2 linked regions of the Homo sapiens genome follow. The protein of the gene in region 2 interacts with the protein of the main gene of each other region in a pairwise test. Each region holds a gene or a part of one and is shown on either strand. Other genes may lie near its edges.

Evidence for each region.
Region 1: the proteins of NOD1 (region 2) and PAK1 interact in binary tests that used the Homo sapiens proteins (3 or more experiments, as listed by UniProt).

What each region holds. Positions count from the first base shown.
Region 1 is NC_000011.10:77,334,443-77,338,260, forward strand, and holds part of PAK1 (serine/threonine-protein kinase PAK 1), read right to left. Parts: intron 2,982-3,818; coding exon 2,882-2,981; intron 1,841-2,881; coding exon 1,644-1,840; intron 1-1,643. UniProt on the Homo sapiens protein: Protein kinase involved in intracellular signaling pathways downstream of integrins and receptor-type kinases that plays an important role in cytoskeleton dynamics, in cell adhesion, migration, proliferation, apoptosis, mitosis, and in vesicle-mediated transport processes.
Region 2 is NC_000007.14:30,468,618-30,472,435, forward strand, and holds part of NOD1 (nucleotide-binding oligomerization domain-containing protein 1), read right to left. Parts: intron 1-3,818. UniProt on the Homo sapiens protein: Pattern recognition receptor (PRR) that detects bacterial peptidoglycan fragments and other danger signals and thus participates in both innate and adaptive immune responses.

The sequences.
Region 1 (3,818 bases), on a different chromosome or scaffold from region 2:
CAGCAACAGTGCACAGGGAATTCCTGCACTGGATGGGAGGTGGGAATAAATGAGAAAATAAAAGCAATCAGAATAAATTTCACATTTGCCCACACCAAGATTACCAACCTATTTGCACCTGTGTTGAGATGCTCTGTTACAAGGGATAAATTGTCCATGCTAATCTAATGTCCTTTACTTCAGTACTTGATCGAACCCCTCTCATCGACTTAAGGATATCACTTCTATGGTTGTCACTTCCTTCTTGTACATGACCATTTTCCTCCTCTCCACTAAATCATTCCCATTAGCACACAGACATCATCTTTTAGAAAAACCCTCCCTTGACTCCATTTTAAGATAGTGCTCCATTTTTGTTACCCTTCCCAGCAAAATTCCTTTAAGAGAAAAAAAAACCTGTTTATACATGCCATCTCAATGTCCTCTTCTTCCACTTTCATGAATTTAATTAGACTTTCATCCCCATCTCTCTACTGATAACTGATTATTAAGGTCATTAAGAACCTCTACATTGGCAAATCCAATGTTCATTTCTCAGTCTCATCTTAACCTATCAATCACATTTGACACATAATCTACCCTCCTCCTCCTTCGGGAAGCACACTGTTCTCTTCATCTCCAGGACACTTCACCTCCAAGACACTTCTCTGTTCTCTCACACTAGAAAGGCCACTCCTTGGTCTACTTTGCTAGTTCTTCCAACCTGTAAACAGTGGAATAACCTAGAGCTCAGTACTCAAATCTCTTTTCTTTAACTGTACTCATTCCCTAGGTGAGTGATCTCATCTACCTACTATATATACCAACTATATATTATCTACTAATAAATTTATGTTTATAGTCCTGACTTCTCACCCTTGAACTCCAGACTCTTAAGCCAAACTCTACTCCAGCTCCACTTAAATGTCCAATTAACACTTCAAATCAGCACATTCAAAACCAACTCTTTATTACCCAACTTAAGTATGCTCTTCACCATTTCAACAGATGGCAACTGAATTTTTTCAGCAATTCAGACCAGAAATCTTGTAGTCATTGCTGATTCCTCTTTCTCTAATATTCAGTTCATCTTGTCAGCTAGTCCTTTAATTTCCTGAATCTGACCACTTCTCACTTCCACTCCTACCAAGACACCACCACTCTGAACTATTACAACAGTCTCTCGCAGTCTATTTTCCATAAAAGCGGCCAAAATGATCTGTTTAAAACATAAATCAGATCACATTACTCCTCAGCTCAAAACCCTCTAATGACTTCCCAACTCTGCAGAATAAAATAACTTATAAGAGAGAACTTCCCTCTCTACTCTAAAATAGCACACCTGTTCCTCCATTACTCTGTTAACTCCCTTACTTTGCTTTTTCTCACAGCATTTACCATCTGTTACTACATATTAATTTATTTTATTTTCATTAGAATAGTTTCTTGCACTTGACAGGGACTCAAATAATTGTTGAATAAATGAATGAGTGACTTCTAATATTCCTTTTCTTTGGCCATTTATACTTTAAGTTCAACAGTGACTAGTTGTATCCAGAAAAGGGATCTCCAGGTTGAAAACCACAGAGAACACCCTGGATTCTTATTTCCTGGGACTAGAGACAACAGCCCAAATAACTTGAAATAGAACTGGTAACACTCACTCTCAGAGGGTTTTCATTGAGGTATGGAGGCTCCCCTTCAATCATTTCGATGGCCATGATGCCCAGGGACCAGATGTCAACCTTGGGCCCATAGGCCTTTCGTGTCACAACCTCTGGTGCCATCCAGTATGGGGTTCCTACCATGGTGCTCCGTTTGCTCTGCTCTGGGGTTATCTGTGCACAGAATCCAAAGTCAGCTAGAAAAGAAAAATAAGAGAAAGAACATACATTTAGGATATACACTCACTTCAGTAAGTGTTGACTGTGTACCTACACATAGGTGACAAGATCCGCCTGGCTTCCAGCTCTGCTATCCTTTGTCTCTCCAAAGTCACTTGACTACCACCTTCATGTCTAGCTCCTAGCCTATTTCCTATTGAACCCTGAAGAGAAATAGAAGGAATATAAGAAACACCATCTCTGGCCTCCTACTTCTCCTCAAACCAGGGGACTTAGTGTTAAAGTCCAAGCTGCCCATTTTGGTCTTGATTGCTCATCCCAATTCTGCTTTGTTCTTGAAAAACCATTCCCATAATCCCAAATCTGGCGACTAGGTCCTTGTCTTATTCCTTGGGCACGAGTCCTTGATTTAAACCCCAATCACCTATGACTAGGCATGGCCCTGTTTTTATGCCCCAGACCCAGGGCTGCTAGCAGTCCTTCCATAAACTGCCCATCCACCCATGACACAGCCTGTTTGTCTGGTCTACTGGTCTTTACACCTTTGAACAAAATGCTCTACCTGCCATGGTTTTTACATTATATTGCAATTATAAATTTATTTAAATTAGGAAGCCTTTGAGAGTATGGATTATGTCCTCTTACTTGTCCTCATATCCCTAGAAGGACCAGCATGTACTGGACATTCAATAAAAGTTTGCTGAATAACTGAATGAAAGAAATTATACAAAACTCTTTTTTCTAATTATCTATTACACGTTTTCCATACTAGATTGAGAAGGTAGGGAAAATTTACTCTCAGTGCCCATCACAGGACCTAGCACAGAGTAACCATTCAGCAAAGTTTTTTGTGGTTGTTGTTAAATGTATAAATGAATGAAAAAATAATGAAATGATATCCTATGATTAATACAGAAAATATAAAACAGCCCTCATATCCCATGAAATCATAAAGACCCTTTGGTGAGTGTCGTAGTTACTATTATATGATGACCATCTCACAGGAGACAGGGCCCCACAGGCAGAGAAGTATTATCATTCCTAAGGCTCCTACTTACTTAGCTTGACAGAGCCATCCATTCCCAACAGAATATTGTCACTCTTGATGTCTCTGTGAATGACCTGGTTCGAATGCAAGAACTCCAGAGCCTGCAGACACTATTGAAGTGGTGTGGGCAGGGGGAGAAAGAAAGGACATACATATAATACAGAAGACTTAATAGAAAATCCACTAATTCAACCTCTTCACTTTAAAATAAAGGAAGTAAGGCCCCAGTGAGTAAAAGGACTTGCCCCAAATCAATCGCAGAGCCAGATCTAGAAACAAGTCTTCCATCTCCTAGCTAAACATTCTTTTAACACTCCATGCTGCCTTTCACCTTAAAACAGTTTTTTTAAGTAAAGGAGTTCCTCCAATGTAATTTTTTTTCTAATTAGATCCTTGGTAAAGGACCTAAGGCCCAAGAGAAATTACTGAAGAAAAATGGAAAGGATCTTATAATGACAGACCAGAGGAAAACAACAAATAAGGGTCATATTTGAGGAAGCAGACATATGGAAGTGATACTAGAAGCAGTAAGTTAGCAGGATAATCTTATTTTGGTGAGGAGATATTTTGTACTATTTTGGATATGCTGAATTTGATATCTGAAGACAAATGTCTGGTAGGCAACTTAATTTATGATAAATTATGGTAAATATTTACAAGTCATTTGGGAAGAGATGATTTTTGTTTAAGTTATAAAAATGGTTGAACCCGGCAAAGGGTAAAGGAGAAAGAGAAGAATCTTGGAAAACACCTATACTTAGCAGGCAGAATGAGTAATAAAGAGACACAATGGTACAATTAAAATGCCTGGTTCTGCTGCTACCCCATTGACTATATAATTCTGGACTTCCATCTATAAAATTTGGGAATCAGATGAGATCATCTCAGCTTTTCTACTAAATCAATAATTTGATTTCATTGACCCAAAACTAATTTTTTAGAAACTT
Region 2 (3,818 bases):
TAAAGCCATCATTCCCTGCCTACCTCATGTAGGTACCTGCCTACCTCAGAGGTGATATAACCCAGATTGCAAATGTCAATTAGAGTGGGCTCCACCAACCCCCAACATAACTGGCACACATATACCCATGAATGGGGACCACATCTGAATTCTCCTTTAGGAAATGACTTCTCTTGAATATGATTCATTTTGGTGAATTTAATCCACAGGCTCCACAGTTTTACAAGTAAAGAAGATAATTATACTCTAGTTGTTGACATGAACTGCTTGGATGTTCAGGGTTGTGGTGATGACGTGAACAACAGACTTCTTCACTCTGCAAGTTACCCAACAGCAAGCTGGGTGGATGAAGCCATGCCAACAGCATCTGGCAGGAGCCAGCACCAAGCACACCTTACACAGCTTCGACAGAGCTGCACGGAGAACACATATGCTTGGTCAGCTCAAATGGTGTCCTACTTTTCCTGCTGCATGATCCACAACAATCTGTGTTCTGTTGTTGTCTGTTTGTTTTTCTTGCTTGGTTTACAATTTCTTAAGGAACTTAACCTGGAAAACAAGCCCGGTCATGTGGGCCTCTGCCATGCCAGAACACTATAGGCAGCCGACTCTGGAGACAATTTAGCAGATGGATGAAGCTACAATTATTATTGGAAGCTTTTTAACTCCATTGACACTCACTGACTTTAAGTATCTGAAAGCACTTAATCCCTCAGAATTTGAAAGCAGATGGAAGTCAGTCCCTCCCGGAATCACCTCTCTCTCTCCCGGCTTCCTTCCCCTCCCTACTCCCTCTTCCCTCCCTCTAGCTCCCTCTGTCTCTCATACAAAGTACCTTATAGTGTGAGCTCCAGACACACAGACACTGCCATCCTGCCTACAAAGAAAGGAATGCAGACACAGCCAACGTCAGCATTCGGGGTGGGACCACAGTGGAACGCATACATCCTTTCACAGCTGCCAAGGCCTTCTGGGAAGTCCAATGCCTGCCCCCACATCTCTCAGAGCCAAACATCTTCTTCTGGTCAGGAAACCCTGTTCAGAGTGCACAGAGAGCCAGCTCCTCCCTTCTCTGCTGAAATCCTGGGCTCCTGAGGTCAAACAGAATGTTGTCCAAGCCACCTATTTTAGAGATGGGAAAACAGAGGCCCTGGGCAGGGCCCTGGACTTGTCCGGATCAATCAAAACTAGCATCCAAGTCTCCTGGCTGCGAGACAGTTGCTTCTTTTGTCTACTTCTGGCCAGAGTAGCCTCCTCAGTAGCCAAACATTTCCTCCATCCCCCCAGCGGGGATGTCACCTGTCAGAATGGGAAAAGGGTAGGGTTCCCACCTTACTCTGTTTCTCCCCTAAGCCCATCTCTCCCTGCTGGGAAGGCCCATGGTATTCTATCCCCGCCTCTCTCAGAGGGCGTGCAACTTTGTGTCCTAAGTTGATTATTTTCCTTTCACATTGGTTGGTAGTGGCAGTGAAGGACACAGACTCTAAAGCCAGGCTATCTGGTTCCAATCACCAGCTATGTGACTTGGACAAATAATGCTCTCTTCTGTGCTTCTGTTTTCTTCTCTGTAAGTACAGATAATAACTGCACCTACTCCATGTAGGGATCTCTGTGAGCATGCAGTGAGTTAATACACGTACATACGGTATTTAGAACAGCACTGGTCACATAGTAAGCACCGGCCGTGACCTACAAGAGGGCAGCCTAGGCCAGCATTTCCATCTGTCATCTTCAAGGCCAGCACTGATGACAAGGGAGGGCGACCATCTGGTGAGTCACCGTATCTCCAGCACATAGAGGGTGCTCGATAGGAACCGTCGAATGAATGAATCTGGCCGGGTGCACTGCGTATAGCAGGTGCTTCATCATGTCCACTGATACGTGGATTTCCATAATTCACAGGCTCACTTAGGGAATGTCACTTACCAAGTTTATTGGTGAATAAATTCAACTTTCCATCACCAATAGTTTCTGTTGCTCTAAGGCATTTATCTTCGCTGCTGTCTTTAAAAGGTTAACCAGAGCCCAGCTGTCAATGTCAAAAGCATTGCCTGTGCGACCACTTGGTACTTAATCACCTACTGCTTGACATTTTCTTGGTTTTATCCAGGCTTTGAAAAACAAAGTTCCCAAAACACTGCACTTGATATTCATCTCTGAGGGGCCAGTGAATAAAAATATCTTAATGAAGAAAGCCAGCAGAAAACAACAGAGCCTTGAAGTGGAAACCGGTTTCCTGGAACTCCACTCTGCGAGAGGGCTGAAGTGTTTATGCAGAGGAAAGTGCCACAGAAGTGGCCGATCTGGAAGCTGGAGGACATCTGGATATGGCATTTAGGACTGACACAGAAAGTGTCTGGGGCTTATCAAGTGAAAAGCACTCCACAAGAACAAAATATATTAGTCACCACCAAAGTGGGAGTTGAAACCGGGCCCACAGCAAATAAACACTCTGCTGATCGCTGGCCAAAATGCTTAGCTGAAGACGTTTATTAACCCCATTGAACATGTATACAGAGTCAGCAAGCATCTAGGACACAAACCTGTCACAGAGCTAAGTGGGAGAGTACCCAGGGATTTATGTGTGGTGACCCTGAGTGGCATTAAGAGGTTGAGAAGATGATAGAGCCATAACCCCTAAAGCATCTGCCCCAGACACTGCACCCCTTGGGCCAGGACTGCTCTCTTCCCTCACTAAGTGAGGTCCCATGTTAAGCAGAAGGCCTGCCCAACCAGCCGAGATACACCTGGCCTGCAACACATCTGGCACTGCAACCTCATGACCGCTTCACAGCAAGGAAGGAGAAACAGGGTCAGTGCAGATGCCTGGAAGCAGCCAGCATGCAGTGCTAAGGATGTGGGTCCCACACAGTGGAGGCTTTTCCTGTGACCTGAAAACACCCAATAAAGAATTTTGTTTTTACCAAACCCTGGGTCTCTCAAGTGCACACAAATGATGAATTCAGATTTTCAAAGGTGAACAGAGCTGGGAAGGCACCCTCTTTGGGATTTCTGGGCAACAGCTAGGCGGAGCAGAACAGACTAGCGTGAAAAACTGACAGCCCTTCCCATAGCCAGGGGGCCCTGACATTTGGTGCCTACAGATTCTGACCCCCTGACCTGTACATGCCCAACCTCCCTCCACTCTTCGGGGTCTTTTGTTCCTGTTTCTAAAGAGCCAGGAAGGACTGGACTCCACCCTAGTCCATCCACTGAAGCTCCTGATGAAGGATGCCGGGTGCCTAGGAGGCCCATATGCATTTACACTCATCTGTCCCAGAAAACTACAGAGCATGTGCCGTGGGCTGGGCAGGCCTGGTTCCAAATCCTGCCTCTGCCTTCTTTCACTTTGTTTTGAGCCTCAGTTCCCTCATCTGGAGATTGAAAACTAGACACTCCAGAATTGTTTCACACACTAAGACAAGGTTTATATAGCTTAAGAAGTAGAGATTGTTCATTATCTGAATAAATAGAAGTGACTAATGATCTTTTTCTTGTATATTATGAATGACAGGAAAAAGTCAGGAGGGGAAATTCCTCCAAAGCTTCCCTCCGCACTTCAGAATAAAATCCCAAATCCTTACCCAGCCCAGGAGGCCCTACTTGGCCTGAGTGTGTCTCATTATTTAGCTCTGTACCCTCCTGGGCTTGGGCCTTACCACACCAGCCACTCAACACACCCACATCCTTCCCATTCACCTCTGGGTCTTTGAACCCACTGTTCTCTGCATCCAGCATGATTTCACTCTTTTTTTCATCCCAAGTCCTAGTTGAAAAGGCTCATTCCTTGAGAGGCGTCCCCAGACTCTCCTAATTCT